2 separate regions of the Homo sapiens genome follow, and region 2 is linked to region 1. A link means that fine-mapping ties the variant in region 1 to the expression of a gene that starts in the linked region. Tissue or cell type: whole blood. Region 1 holds a variant in brackets; the other region holds the start of a gene. All regions are shown on one strand. Distances are between the middles of the regions.

Region 1 (8,107 bases):
AAGGTTTAAACGACTTGCTGTACAATTCAGTCTTGCAATGACAGAGAGATTACACACTATCTGCAAACAACTGCCAAGCAGATGAAATCCTGGCTGTGGGAAGTCTGCGGTGAAGAGTGGTGGGGGTGGTCAGGAGAGCAGTGGAAGGGAAGTGGCTCAGAACATTGTAGTGGTGGTTTGGCGTGCCTGTCAAGGGCTGTGGGACGTTTTCTCTCTCATTTCAGAAACAAGGGTGGTGGGAAACACATGGGCCGTGGATTTGCATAAACCAACAGTCAAATCCTAGCTCTACCAGTGACTTCACTGAGCCTCATTTTCTTCAGGGGGAAAGAATAAATAGCCCTTGGGGTGATTGTAAAGCCTAATTAGGTATGTTATAATTGTATTAAGAGGATGACGAGTTCACCGTTTGCCAGGGAGTTTTCCGGTTTTAGTGCCAAACATTCCACATCCGGGGAATCTTCCTCAGTCCCAGGCACACTGGGTGGTGAGTCCCCCAGTTATATATGAAGATACCTATTACTGTTCCCTAATTGTATGTACACACACACACACACACACACACACACATACACACACACACACACACACACACATATCTATAAATAAAGGGCTTCTGGAAGCTGGCTGCCTATTACTGTGTACCTGATACTCAGTGGGTATTTGTGAACTCCCAGGAGGATAGTGTGTTAGTGTGTTTGCGTGTATCTCTGTATTCCTTCTTAGGGATGGCATACAAATAAATGTTTCATGAATAAAGGGATGAATGAGTAGGTAAAGTAATATAAGCAGTAATGCATATGTTTTAAAGTGATTTAGCTGGTTTTCCTTCCAGGGGCCTCTTCCCTGAGAAAAGAGCCACTTAATAAATGATGTCTTGAATGAAAGAATACATCATGAAAATAATTTTGTCCATGATGTGGCTAAACTAAAACTCCAGGAAGGGCTTAGGCTGGGCCTATCTACTTTTTTTGATAAAATGAAGTTTAATATGACCCTAGTGACAACCTCCCCTCATCCCCTTAAAGCTCAAATTTAGGGAACTCTTGTGGTTGGACTCTCACATACTCCCTAGGACTCTGCTGGGTGCTGGGGAATTTACTAAACTTTGGTGAGGAGAAGAGGAGAGGAGAGGGAAGCCACGGTACTAAGGTACTTAGGGAGACAGAAACAGTTCCCCTAGAAATTAGACATCACATTGTCTTTTTCCCCCCTTTCTTTTGAATGAGATGGGGCAAGAATATTTGGACCAGGATAAAGTTTTAAGATGCATTTACACTAATGTAATCAGGTTACATAGCAAAAAAATGTTAAAAATGTACCCTGGGAAATTGAAATCTATCCATTCTTCTAGGTGTGGCAGCTTATTCAGATTTTTATGTTGTGTGACCATAAAACGAACACAGCTTTTCTAACCGCGAGTGTCTTTGTTTACAGAGATAACAGTGTGAGTAATGCTTTGCTAGAAGCCAGGCAGTTAAATCACACTCTGAGCAAATAGAGGCTGGGCTTCAGAAACTTAGATAGCACACGAATGTGCAAACTTGGTCTTTTAAACTGAAGACATATCTGAAAGAAAACTGCTTTTGGCCCATGAACTACTTTCCCAGCCCTTTGTGCCTCCCAATCTCTGCCCCCCTTTACAAAAAATCTTTGTTTTTCCTCTACAAATATACATATATGATTTCAATTTGGAGGTGGGATGTTATTTTTTTCACTTGAAACACAAGGAAGCAATTTTTAAAAGTCATACTCGTTCAGCAGTGGGCTTGACTGTAGCCAGTTTGACTAGGAGTTCTTGGCTACAGAACCATACACTTGCAGTCTTTATCAGGGTAGTAAATTCAGATGGGTTTTTGGAAAGGGAGAGGGCTGGAGTTGAGGGAAGGGCACTAGAGCAGTGTGACCCACGGCCCAGGAGCAGTGTGAGTGGGAAGGGGCTCTAGAAGCTGACTGCCTTTGTGTTTGCCACAGCGTGCTGGGAATCAGATGAGAAGGCGGGCCCAGACCCCACCAGATACTCATCTCAGCCATTGTTGTCATTAAATGACTCTGAAATGACCTTTCTTACCTCAGTTTCCTGTGAGCTCATAGTTGTCTGCAGATGTGAATTATGTCATTGATCTTTGCTCCCTCTTTGCTTATAAGGAGTAGCTGTTCTGCTCCATGTTTCTGGAAGAGGAAAGTGATGCACAGGTCACTTAGTAAAGCGGTCCCCAGCCTTTTTGGCACCAGGGACTGGTTTTGTAGAAGACAATTTTTCCACAGATAGGGTGGAGGAAATGGGGAGTTGGTTTCGTGATGAAACTCTTCCACCTCAGATCATCAGGCATTAGATTCTTATTAAGGAGTGGTAACCTAGATCCTTTGCATGCACAGTTCATGATAGGGTTTGGCTCCTGTGAGAATGCTGCTGCTGATCTGACAGGAGGCAGAGCTCAGGCAGTAATGCTTCCCATCCACCACTCACCTCCTGCTGTGTGGCCGGTTCCTAATAGGTCACGGGCCAGGACCAATACCGGTCTGTGACCTGGGGGTTGGGGACCCCTGACTCGGTGATTCAGCAGTTGATTTGGGATCCTCTGTCTTTGTTCCTCCTCCCTCAGCGGGAATTCACAGTGTAACTCATTTGCTAAGGTTTTCTGCGTTAGAAACAGAACTCCTTTTGGACTACTAGGAGACATGGTCATTAGAATAATTATGATTCTTAGTATGACTCAACCCCTTTTTAATATTCAGCCTTATGGAGGGCCTCTGCCTGCGGCTCTTTGCTCAGGCACTAGGGCCACAGGGGTGTAATTTCTATCTCTGCCCTCAGGAAGCTCACAAACAAGTCAAGAGACAGGAAAACGGATCCTGTTTTTCTAATGGGATTTGAATGGATGTATTTATGGGAGGGGGGTGCTTTGTACACCTGCAAAACAGAACACCAGCCCTCCCTTCTCCTCTGGGGTTGCTGTGAGAATCAGTTAGAATAATGTGCATGAACCCCGTATGGAAAATACAAACTCATAATTAAATCTAAGAAATTTTTGTGGGGGGACACAAATGTTGGGGTTGTCTTTGTTCTCAGGTCCCCTCAACTGGTCTAATGAAGGAAACAGACACCTTTCCAGTAACAATAGCCAACATTTATTGGACACTTATGTACCAGACTGTGCTATTTATGACATACATTATCTAATTTCACAATCAGAAGAATGCTAGAGATAGGGTCAGGCGTTATCTCTGTTTACAGATGAGGAAAGCAAGGCTTGGAGAGAATGCCATACAGTTATTAGTGTGGCGGAGCCGGCCTTTGCACCTGGCTGTTGACCACGCCCTAGCATTAAACCATTACCTCACACTGCTTCTCCGAGATAGTTATCTTCTTGGGATCATTTAGGTGTGGCAGGATCTGGAGGGAGCAGTTGGACCCAAGTCTCCTAGCAGCAGCCTACACGTTTCTTGAGTCTGTTTTGAAACAACTTCCTTAGCCCTAGCTGCGCAGAAAGCATCCTCCCCTCAGAGTGATGATTTTTATCATGTGGTTTCCTTCCTCCTGCCTTTGGAGGTCAGGTCTTCTCACCCAGGGTCAGAAAGCCCATCAGTTGCTGATAAGCTGCAGCACTTGAGTCACAGGGTGCAGGCCTGTGTTTAGAATGGGTCATGCTCATGTCAGGCACGTGGGGAATCAGTGATCCCATGAGAGCTCGATCAGTGCAGTCTGGTTTGGAATTGCAGGTCACACCCTTCCACCACTTTGCTCATGTGTCTACTGATGCCTGTGATGTAGTTAGTTAAACCACTGACTTCTTTCTCCTGCATCAAACATGACTTTTTGAAAAAGTGTGTGGGGGCTTTCCAGCATGAACCAGGCATAAACCAGGTACCTTCATGAACATATTATTTATCCCTTCAGTCACCCTGTGTGCTAGGTGGTATCATAACTGCTTTGTGGATTGAGGAACCTGAGGACCAGAAAGATGACTTGAGGTGGCAGCCTCATTTAGCCAGCAAGTAAGAAAATGGGTGATGGTGAACTTCTGCAGCAAGAGGGGGCCGTTTTCAACATTTCTGTGAATTCAAGGCGTGTGCTTCGTCTAAATAGGTGGAGACACGTAGGAAGGCATAGTGTATACATCC[A/G]TCAGCACATGGGTAGATTTTGAGGTTTTTTTTGTTTTGTTTTAAATCCAGAGCGTTGTGTATTTGATCATTCTTGGAGATTCAGCCACATTCACAGGTGTTAAGTGTCACACCTAACCTAGCAATACAATACACAGCTGAAAGAAACCAGTCAGGTTTTCCCAATATCAATTTCTTTTTATTTTCTTTTCTGCAACTCCAGAGGATTCAATAATGTCAATTTCTGATAAAGCTTTTGCTATTGATGAGTAAATTCTTCCATTAAAAAGATAACAGTCTGCTAATTTGCTTATCATTGATGTTGCAAGAGCGTAACATTGGAGGGATGAGTAATGCATCTGCATATCTCGAAGGACAAAACTGACGTCCACCCACTTGTGGATACGGTATTTGGTAAAAGTAACTAAGGTAAAATTGCCTAAGGGCATTTAACTTGAGCCATAGCTTAAATTCAGGTGATATTGAGCGTTGACATATCAGGATTCTTTTGTACACAGAGACGTGGATGTAGACCCACTGGTAGCAATTGCAAAGGCTCTGGATTTTTAGCTGCTGGATGAAATACCTGCAGCTGAACATCTGTTATGATGCAATTAAGCAGTGACTCAGTGGCGTGAAGGCTCAGTTTCGATGTATCGGGAACTCCTTTGAATCTGTCCACAAACTTCTCAACCAAAAGGAGAGGAGAAATGTGTACAGACATTTGAGAGGCTGGGTCTCAACATGCCTCTGCCTAGGCAGTCATGGGAACCTGGTCTTTTCTCCTGAGACAGGAATTAACCTGTAGTACGAGAAACATGGTTGGATGAGTGGTTAAAGCAGGGCCCAGACTTTGGTACAGTTTAGGTTATGGTAGCAGGGATAGGGAGAGAGGTGGATGATGGTAATGGTCTGTGTTTTTTTCCTTTTGTCACTCAGATCCAGCTTTTTTTTTTTTTTTTTGAGAGACAGTCTGGCTGTGTCTCCCAGGCTGGAGTGCAATGGTGCGATCTCGGCTCACTGCAACCTCTGCCTCCTGGGTTCAAGCGTTTCTCCTGCCTCAGCCTCCCCAGTAGCTGGGATTACGGGTGCCTGCCACCACTCCCGGCTAATGTTTGTATTTTAGTAGAGACAGGGTTTTACCATGTTGGCCAGGCTAGTCTTAAACTCCTAACCTCAGGTGATCCACCCACCTCGGCCTCCCAAAGTGTTGGGATTACAGGTGTGAGCCACCGCGCCCGGCCTTCAGCTCTTCTTTCTGCTATTGCTTTGGCCTAATTAATAACTTAAAGCTGGAACGTTGATGTCAGGTATGTGTAGGTCCAGGAAAACAGCTGTTGGCTCTGTTACTTCAATTTTTTTTTTACTCTATACTTTGAAGAAGTAGTACTTTCTAGAACTTGTACTCAAAACTCAACTGACAAATCCTGGAAGGCCGTTGCTTATACGCTCTAGTTGATGCGCCACAGCTGCCTGGCTGTGAGAATGGAGTAGCATGTACCTCTTAATTAGCCAAGAATAAGTGCCGTGGAAGAAGGCAGGATGACTTTTTAGAACCCATTTTTAGCTTGAAGATCACTGAGGGAGCCATCAAATCCATCCACCTGTTCAATCAATATTCAGCCAGCAAGTGGGTGTCAAGGTGAGCAGCTTACAGTGCTGAGCACACTGGAAACACAGGTGTGTAAGGGACAGCCACGGTCTCAAATTACATTCTGAAAGGGAATACTAGGTAAGTGATCCCAAACATGCAAATATCATTCCTTGGTCCTGGGATGTGGGGGAAGCATTTTGGAGGAATTGACATTGATTGCAAGTTTTTAAATATGACCTGGATTAGATTATGAGATGATGGGTGCTTGGGGGTAGGGGTGTACAGAGGGAGTCATGAAACCATGGAGGATGTTGGGGAATGGCTAGAATTCTACTTGGGACATCATGCAAGTTTTTTTTCCCCTTCCATTTCATTTGTTAATGCTTATTATTAGTTGGGGGTTTTGCCTCCTTTTTGTTAGCCAACAGCCAGCTAATCTTGGCACAGGTCCCGGGAATCAGGTGCTGCTTAGCAGCTGATGTTGGTTAAATGACCTTGGACAAGTGACTTGCATTTCAGTTCTCTAACCTGTTAGGGTTGTAGATTGTCTGATACAGATTTGAAGGCCCCTGCAAATAAATGCATGGCCGTTTACTCTGGTCACTTTCATTTTACCGAATGTGCTCCCCCAAGGCTCTTCTGGGTAGATGCCCACTGCCAAAACATTAAGCATTTTTGGCTTCTCATGCTTTGAGCTCACAAAATCAGTCCTGTGGGAAACCTAACAAGCTACAAAGGAGAGGGAAAGCAAAAGAAAAGGTATATGGATTCTCATGCAAAGAGAGAAGGAAAGTAGGTCCCTACCTAAAGTCTAGCCCTGTATTGGTGGTGGTACTGATAATGGTAATAGCCACCAAAACTTCTTGATACTCCCCTTGTGCAGGCATTGTCCTAAGTACTTTGCAGTATTGATTCATATGCTCCTCATAGCGTCCTTGTGTGATGTGTTATTTCCATTTTGAAGATGAGGAAACTGAGGCACAAAGGAAGCTGTGCCCAAGGACACTTAACTAGTAAATGGAGCCAGGATTCCAACCCACGCAGTGCGCTTTGGGACTCAATTTTTAACCATCTTGCTGTGCTGCCTGTTGAGCATTTTTCACCTGGTGCTTTTGTAGATCCCACATTAGGATTTTGTTAGGACCCTGGGCAACCTTGATTTAGTGAAAGCAGTTGTTGAGAGGTAGAAATTCCTGATCCTTTTTTCAATCTTAAAGGATTTGCTGAGACTCTCACTCTTCATTGGTGATGGTAACAAGGAGCAGCATGGTGAATGCCATGTAAAATTCAAGCCTTGCCTTATCTTGGAGGACTTTATTCCCTTTTCTTTGATGGTACTTTGGAGATTCCAGACTATAAAGGACTCAGCTGACAGTACAGACTCTCTTGATCTGTATTTTCCCAGTATATGAAATTATTTGTAATGTACCCGTGAGAACCTGGAATAAACTGTACTGGCACTGAAGTAGAATCTTGGATTTAAAAGTACAGTGTTCACTGCTGCATCGTTGAGCATTTGCTACACAGAGAATAACCTTGGAGCAATGTTCAAAGGTGATGGCATTACCCAGAAACATGGAGTTAGGCCAGGAAACCACATCTGAAGTTCAGATTATTGGAGATTGCTGATTTTTCTTGACTTTAAATATTTTCGACTGGTTGAGTGTTTGTTGGTGTTTTTGGGCTAAGTGTTAGCCTTTTGTTCTGTGATGTCCCTGTGTGAATAAAATGGATAATCCCTGTTTCCGGTTAGCTGCTGCTGCTGCTGCTGCTGCCAAGTATAAGTGAAGACTTCCAGCTGCGATTTGCATTGTGTTTTCAGGCCACCTTTTGAGTTTCCCCATAGCAGATATAAAAACTGTTTCTAAGAGTTCATCCTTACGTGTTCAGCCTTACTTGTATCCTAAAACCACAAACTTGATTTTGTTCCCATTCATTATGATCTATATTTGGCATCAGTGAGGCAAGTTATTTATATTTATTATTTATACCCTGCCCACTTCCAGAAATGATTTAATTTGGCCTAGGCAAGTGTCTTCTGATGGGGTGTGTGTGTGTGTGTGTGTGTGTGTGTGATGATAATTCTGATGTGTGTGTGTATGATGCTACTTCTGCCACTTCAAGAGTCCAGAATCATAAGATTCCTAATAGGATTGTTGGGTTGGTGAATGCTGGGTTTGTTCTCTTCTATGCCCTCTCTGTCCAGGAGAAATCTGAGTATCTTTCTTAGGAATGCCTAACACTGCTAGACTGAAAGGTGCCATGTCACCATTTTTCCCAAGAAATTTTCTTTTGAGGGTGCTATAGAGAAGCCCTCTGGTATGAATGTATTAGGCTGGTGCAAAAGTAATTGTGGCTTTTGCAATTAAAAGTAATGACAAAACTACAATTACTTCTGCACCAACCTAA
Region 2 (8,107 bases), 120 kb before region 1:
TGTACTCACTTATAAGAAGGAGGTAAATGATGATAACACACAGACACAAACATGGGAACAATAGACACTGGGGCCTACTCTAGGGTGGAGGTTGGGAGGAGGGAAGAGAATCAGAAAAAATGACTATTGAGTAATAGGCTTAGTACCTGGGTGATGAATTAATAAGTATAACAAACCCCTGTGGCACAAGTTTACCTGTTTACAAACCTACATATATACTCCAAACCCAAAATAAAAGTTAAAAAAAAACCCAAAAGAATTTTCTGAATGGTTAAAAAAAGTAACATACGCACAACGTAAAACTTACCATTTTAACCATTTTCATACAGTTTAGTGGCATTATGTACGTGTACATCGTTGTGGAACCATCACTACCATCCATCTCTAGAACTTTCTTCCATCTTGCAAAATAGAGTTATGTTGAGTAATTCATATGCAATGCCCAGGCATACAGCTCTGATATGCTAGCTCCTAAGATATCTCTGGCACTTAACTAGCTGTGAGAACTTGGGCAACTCATTTGACCATTTGGTCATCCACAGAATGGGGTTAATATTTACCTCACAGAACTGGCAAAAGGACAAAATAAGATAATATTTGATAAAGCATTTTAAAAACTGGAAAACATTTTATGGTTGCTACTTATAATCATTATTATTATTAACATAGAAAATGTGAAGATCTTTTATAGAAAGCTGAGACCATTTATTGTGATCATTTTATAAATATTGTTATACATTTAGGTTACCATCTATTCAGATTTATCATTACACATATCTTTTACTTTTTTATTGATTGATTATATCTAGAATGGAATACTAGATATAATCTACTAGAATGGAAGATCCATGAAAGCAATGATTTTTTAAAATTATTTTACCCATTGCTCTATTTCAGAGCCGAGAAGAATATAAGGCATATCTATCTCTTGAATAATGAAAGAATAAATTACTTTATGCAAGAGTAAATATGTTATTAGTGCTTTAAAAAATTCATTCATAATGATAGTTTACATATAAGTCTTTAGGTTTTCCCAGTGCAAAATTAATACATGTGAATTCCCAAATGAAATATATTTTAAATATGAGGAAATTTCCCAGACTAGTTCAGAGTTAAAAGGAAGCAAGTTTAGGAGTAAACAGGAATTTTAAAAATATATGCAAGTTTTCAAAATATGTTCTGATTTTAAAGTTTTGGGCTATTATCAGTACAATAAAAGATGAGTTCAATTGGGTTAATATAATATAACCAAGGAAATACTTAGAGTATCATTCTCTTTTCTAAACAAAACAGGTTGTAGTAGACAATACTGTTTATCAATACCTTTTTATTTTATTTTATTTTATTTTATTTTTTGAGACAGAGTCTCGCTCTGTCACCCAGGCTGGAATGCAGTGGTGCGATCTCGGCTCACTGCAACCTCCGCCTTCCAGGTTCAAGTGATTCTCCTGCCCCAGCCTCCAGAGTACCTGGGACTATAGGCGTGTCTCACCATGCCCGGCTAATTTTTGTATTTTTAGTAGAGACGGGGTTTCGCCATGTTGGCCAGGCTGGTCTTGAACTCCTGACCTCAGGTGATCCACCCACTTCAGCCTCTCAAAGTGCTGGGATTACAGGCATGAGCCACCGTGCCCAGCCTTCCCCTACATTCTGAATGGAAAGTTAAAATGACAATTTATATCTGTAAAAATTTTGTAATAAAGTATTTTGATGGGAGATAAAGCCATATGCAATCACATGGTTTTAAAAGTGGAGAGTAGTATGTTACAAACATGATATTGAAGACTTCTAGGTTCCTTTATATCAACCCTGATTCTAATATGAGAAGAAACTAAGCCGCTTCTGAGATACATGGGAATAATCCTTCTGAGCTGTTATCACTGCCTAAGACTTTTTATCTTTTTTAGATTTTGCCTTCCATAAAAATGTCTTCTCCAATAATCTTTCCAGTTGTACTATCTTTTCTTTGAATTGTTACTTCTTTTTGGTCGTTGGTACACTGAGTTCTCTAGGGTGATTTTTTGCACCTAAGGGTAAGAATTCAAAATTGTGATGCAGGTATTTACAGTAGAACTCTGAATCCTTGTCTTTCACATTTTTGGAATAATTACTGGGGCTTTACTAGAGTACCTTGCTAAGGTGTGTGTGGCCTTTTTTTTTTTTTTAATTAAAAAACAACGTAAGTGGGAGTGGAATGGGGTAAGGGAGGTGAATCATTCATCAAATGAAAATTTATTTAAATACCGTTGTCTGTGATAAAGGAATAACCATTTCAGAATAACACTGGAAGAATTAATTTAAATGGATGCACTTCCCAATATTGTTACTGTTTTCTTTGGTATTTCATTAACATTGTGAGTGGGGAGGTGCTGGGGTCCATGGTAAAAAAATAAGTAAGTGAAAGGCAAACAACTTTGCTTTCTAGTGGATTTCCCTTATTACCTAATGAGGGCAGCAGCTTACAAGTTGATTGTGTTCAATTCAACAAATTTGTTTTAGTACCTAAGTGCCTGCTATATGTACAGAGTGAAGAAAGAAATAACCCTACCTTTAAGAGAGTTTACGGTCTGGTTGTGTTGATTCACCTTCTGAGAAAAAATGTTATTTGCTTTCCTCAATTTTTTTCCTATCAAAAGTAAACATAGGTTCAAACATTCAAACCTATGAAGGCCTAAAAGGAAGAATCATCTTCAGTTTGCTGTGACGATTTCACTGAGTTTTATTTTAAAATATTCATTTAAAAATACATACAAACATATAAACCCATCAGGCCAGGTTCTAGTGATCTGAGATATAAGCATGATACAAACTACTTGGCTGCCGTGTATTTTTGTTTTATTTTAATCCAGGTGATCAGGTCTGTATGGGGAAAAAGCCCTGGGGCTTTTTCAAACAGGAAGGGCCCTCCTCCCTCTGAATGCCCGCAGTGCCGCCCTGTGCACTTTACAGAACAAGGAGAAAGTCAGTTTCTTCAAACTGCTTTTCTAAAGAGCGTTTCCATTCGTGGTCCTGGTGATTCCACCATCTTTTCTTCACAACAGTGACGGTTCTGGAATTTCTACACAGCCTGAGGGGCTGACGGGGTAGACCAGGTGACTGGGAAGGGGCAGTGGCACATGACAAAAATTTGAGGAAACGTCCAGTTTCCGTTTCAGGGAATGCGCATAGGGGAAAACGCAAGTCCCCACGCCATCACGGGGCCCTCCACCGCGGCCGGACGACCCCTCTCTCGGGAGTGACTGGGGCAGGGCACCTGGCCTCAGGTTCGAGCGGAGCCTGCACTGAGAGGCAGGAGTTGGATGAACCACTTGTAGGGTCTGCTCCCAGCTACCCAAAGCGAAAGGGTGGGCGAAAAAGCATTTGCAAAAGAATACATTAACCTCACAAGGAACGACCCCCACCACCCATCCTCCAGCGCCCAAGGTTTCCCACGAAGAGGTCGCCGTCGCCCTTCTCCAAGTTGGGTAGAACCTATAAGGCATCACCAACTGCATCTCAAACCAACCAAGCAAGTGACGCTCCAAAACCTCCCTAAATACCCTCTCTCCCCAGCATTCCGAACGCAACATCAAGGGCGAAAAGAGGCTGCACAAATCACGTAGAAAATTAGACCGCCTCTTTCCATGGCGATAATCGAATTAGCCTCAAATTAAACGTGAAATTGGCCCTCTCCGGCTGTGGAGACAAAGCCCCTATTGTCCTGCTCGGGTAGCGGCAGCAGCAGTGCCCACCCCGCCCCGGCCAGCCTGGTCGGTCCCCGCCGCTGGGAGGATGAGGTCCGGGCTGGACCCGGGAAGAGCCTCAGCTGGAGAGGACGTGGACGCGCCCGAGGCTCGGCTCCCTGGGCGGCTGCGGGGCTCCGGGCAGGAGGAGAGGGCGGGCGAAGCAGAGGGAGCGGGCGGGAGTGGGGAGGGAGGAGTGCGGAGGGCGGAGGGCGTGCGGGAGGGATCCCGGGAGTGCGCTTGTGTGTGTGTGCGCGCGCGCCCGCCCCGCGCGCTCCTCTCCCCGCCCCTCGCCCCCTCCCTGCGAGCGCCCTCCTCTCCTCCTCCCCCCGCCCCCCGCGCTCCCGCCCAGCCCCCGGAATCAGTGCCGCTGTTGCCGTGCAGGCTGCGGATTCCTCCAGTCCCTCCCTCGGCCGCCTCTCCTCCCGGAGCGAGCGCGCAGCCCTGCGCAGCAGCGCCCACTGGTCCCGTCCTGTGAGCCCCGGCCCCAGCCGCGGACAGACCCGCGGAGTCGCCTCCCGGCCCACCCGCCCGGCCGCCGAGGAGCGGGAGGAGGACGGGACCCCGGCGCCCCCACCCCATCCCCGGGAGGTAGGTAGGGGGCCCGAGGCAGGGAGATGCCAACTCACTGGGGCTGCCTCCCGGGTGGGCTCCGCGGCGGCGGACGGGCGGGAGGAGGGGCGCGGGCCCAGGGCCGGAGGACGCCGCTGCCCGCCTGCCCTGCGCCCGGGGAGCCGCGTGGGGGCAGGGAGGCTGCAAAGCCCGGGCGGGGGCGGCGCGGGGAGCCCGGGTCGCGGGTGCTCATTGGTACTCGGATGATGCGGGACGAGGGGCGGCAGGCTCTGCGGTGAGGCGGCAGCAGACCCGCCGTGCGCACCGCTGCCGTCCGGCCCCAGCCCCGGCGCGGCGCGGCGATTCCTCCTCCCTGCCTCCGCCGGCGCCTCCCTGCAGCCGGGCGCGGCGGCCCCTGACGCGGAGGCCCCTGGCGCGGAGGTGGGTGCGGAGCGGACAGCGGACAGCCGGAGGGTCTATTTTCAGGTGCCCTCTCTGTGGCCCCGCGGGTGGGGAGCGGGGGCGGCGGTGACAGGGCCGGGCTCTGCGCGTAGCGGTGCAGGGGATGCGGCCAGGCGTGGTCCCGGCTGCGCCGCGCTGCAGCTGAGCCGGAGGCGGCGGCCCCGCGCCCCCACCTCCGCCCCATCCCTGCGCTTGCTACCCTCGTGCGCCCGCCCCCCCCCCGCCCTTTCTGCCGTCCCCACTCTCCCAGGGCTGGGCGTGAGCCGCCTCCGGGCGCCGAGCCGCCGCTGCGCCCGCCCTTCAGCTCCTGCCACCCTCTCTTCAACAGGTTTGTCTCAGCGCAGGGACCCTCCGGGCCTGCTTTGGGTAGGTGGGCTGGCTCGTCATCACCCCCCACACCACGCCCACGGCCCTCTTTTAGGGGGCGCCTTCTCTTTGTTTTTGTGATAGGAAAGGTGCCAACTGCTGCCATCAGATGAGGAGGGGGTGGGGATCAGAACGCAAACCTCTGTCCATTATTTTTCCAATCGAAAGCCAGGCCAGATAGTAAGTGAGGACAGGGTGCGTGTGGGGGTGCTTCGGCGGAGCAGAAAATTGAATTCGGTGGGGTTTATTTGGGCGGGGATGTGCTTTTTTGGCAAGATGGATGGCTCACGGTGCCCTCGCCGTGATGCAGCACAATGCAGCAGTATCGCAGCTTCCTTGGTTCTCGCTGGCGGGGCTTGGCACGGCCGCTCGGCGCCTGCGGCCCCCGCCCGGCCCCACCCAGGCCCGGGGCTGCCCTTGGCCGAGGCCTGGAGCTGCTGCTACCTTGTCCTGCAGCTTCTGCTGGATGTGGCGTCAGGAGGACCAGGTCAGCTAGGTGTGAGCAGGGGAGAGTCTTTTCTTTTGGGATGATCCCTCCTGCACCTCTTCTTGGGCTGCGCTCTGCCGGAGGGGCGCCCTGCATCACCAGTGCAGGCAGAGGGGAGCCGGCCTGTGGTTGCGGATCGGAATCTGATCTGCGACCAGGGGACCTGAGCCATAGGGAGGGGCTGCAGGAAGGACTGGGCCCAGTGGTGTGCGGAGGCAATGTTGCAGTGTGGGGAGTCGCAGCGTTTTTCTGTGGATCGTCCATAATCTGTAACCACAACCCAGCTATGCATTAATTTTTTCTACGTGAAAAGTTGGTGTTTATTAATTGGACCTTCACAACTGTGACATTACAGTACCTCGTCTGTCTTTGGTTAATACCAAGTATGCATTTTTTCTGTAGGAAACCATTTTTAAATGAAATGATTAATGCATTTTGGGTTTTATGTCACTAAGACATTTATAAGTATATTAAAATTCAGTAGGTTGTTTTAAAAGGAATTTATATGTTTTTTAATGGATAGTAAATGATTCCTTTAGCTTGTATTTTGTTTTCATCGTTTGCTTTTTCTAAGTCAAGTACAGTTGCATTATTTGGATGCTTTATTAAGGATTATTAGGTGTATGAGTGTCATGATGGGGGCTAAATTGGTATTCAGATTTCTATTGATTGAGGTAGCCAAGTTAAGTGTCCGGGCGTAATTAATGGGATTATGACAGTAACACTGCGTTTGTGTTTGTTTATATGTATTTTTTGTATACATATTTTTCACAGCTGTGACTGGGGAGAGGGTGGAGAAGGGCAGACCACCAAGGCCTCTTGACTGGCATCTAGTCAGAAGGAGATGGTTCCCAGTGTTCTCATGTTTAGTCTCGGCCAGGACACAGGGAATTTCCCTTCTAAATGCCATCTCTATAATTCATTATTCAGTGTGGGATGGCAAATGGGATATATTTCAAATGTCAACCCAGGCTTTCCTAAAATGTTTAGGTGAAAAAGGAAATTTCAATATGCTAGTTGGAAGGGAAGGTCAGTGTTTACAAGCCAAGGGCGTGCCTGCTTGTATTTTTAAATATTTCTAATGAATCCAAGTTAGTTGCTTTTGATTTCATGTGGCTCTGCAGAATAGAACTGCATGTACATTGTGTGGTGTATGTGCGTTATTTTGAGTTTCTCTAATAGCCATTAAAATATGAGACTTTTTGTGCTGGTTGTGTAAAATCGTGTTGCGTACAGATTTTTATGAATGTTGTTCCCATGGATCATCCAAACGTTTTGGATTTACTTTGTTGTAAGAAATATCCTGTGTTGATGTCACAGGAGGTTTAGCTGTTCTGACTTACACAGCAGGTGCAGAATTCTGTTGGGTTAAGCTCTTTGTAACTCTGTCATTACTGGAGTGACCAAAACCTTCATCTGAGAGGAGAAGTATTGGGCAGTGAAGGAACTGCTGTCACTAGGTCGTCTCCCACAGTTGAGGTTTTCTGTGAAGAACTTCTCTTGGGCAAGACTAGTAACAACTATCTGTGATGTTGCAGAGCAAATGAGAAGACCTCCCTCTACTTGTGACACATCCTGAGCAGAGGCTTGGCATTGGCAGAGTTTCCTGGAAGGGTTTGTAGAGTGGTTGCTTTGTCTTGATGTTTGAATGTATGACTTTACATGTGGAAGTACTATTTTGACGTGGAAGGATTTTACTACTGCTAACATAGACATGATTAGTGGAAATCATTCAGTGTGGATTTTGTCGAAATAATTTTAAGCTTTTCTTTTTAATAGCATATTCTTATAGAACATTTTAAAGCCTAATTTTTTTTACGTGCAATGACATGATGCTCCTTTAATTATGTTGCATCGTAACTAGTATCTTCATTATAATTGGGCTTTATTTAATGGCAGCCGTAGTTTCTTTCACTACATTATTGGAAATGCAAACCATTCTTCCAGAAGGAAGGGGCTAACTACCCCTGTTAGAAGAGTGAACTTTGTAGGTCTGTGGAAGTGAGTAAAGCATCTCATGGGTTTTTCTTGTAAATTTTCAGTCTTTGCTTTTTCTCAGGGCATCTTTTCTTTGCAAAAGACCTAGTTTAGTACTCTGATTTTTCCGGTAGCACTTGTAATTATATTTAAATTTTTATTGTGTGGGAATAACATCATCTATTTTTTTCTACTCAGTGGTTAAAGGAAATTACACCAATTAGATATACCTGTGTTTCTATTTTTAAACATCTCTGGAGAAGGCATTTTCATAATGTCCTTTGCTATCATAGTGAGGTTCACGGACCTTCAACATTAGAATCGCCTGGAAGCTTGTTGCAAATGCAGATTCTTAGGCCCCACTCTGAACTCAGCCAATCGGAATCAACATTTTAACAAGACCTTTAAGTGAGTTGTATGCACATTAAATGAAGAAACTCTATTCTGTTCCTTCAGCAAAGGGACCTCAATATCAAAAGTTTCCTTCTTGAATTTTCCTTTCTTTTGCTGAAGTATCAGCACATTTTTTTCCTTGATGGTG

The links. PIP is the estimated chance that this variant, and not a neighbour inherited with it, causes the effect.
Region 2: SPTBN1 starts here. The variant in region 1 is fine-mapped to the expression of SPTBN1 in whole blood (TOPMed, PIP above 0.99).

What each region holds. Positions count from the first base shown.
Region 1 is chr2:54,571,006-54,579,112 of GRCh38, forward strand. The region is part of intron 2 of SPTBN1 (spectrin beta, non-erythrocytic 1); the gene reads left to right. Among named protein-coding and RNA genes, the nearest start is that of SPTBN1-AS1, 16 kb to the left of the region's middle. RefSeq lists silencers at 3,493-3,652, 3,723-3,782. The variant A/G (reference allele first, on the strand shown) is at 4,126.
Region 2 is chr2:54,452,206-54,460,312 of GRCh38, forward strand. SPTBN1 (spectrin beta, non-erythrocytic 1) reads left to right here and starts at 4,122. Exons shown (of 36, transcript NM_003128.3): 1 at 4,122-4,313.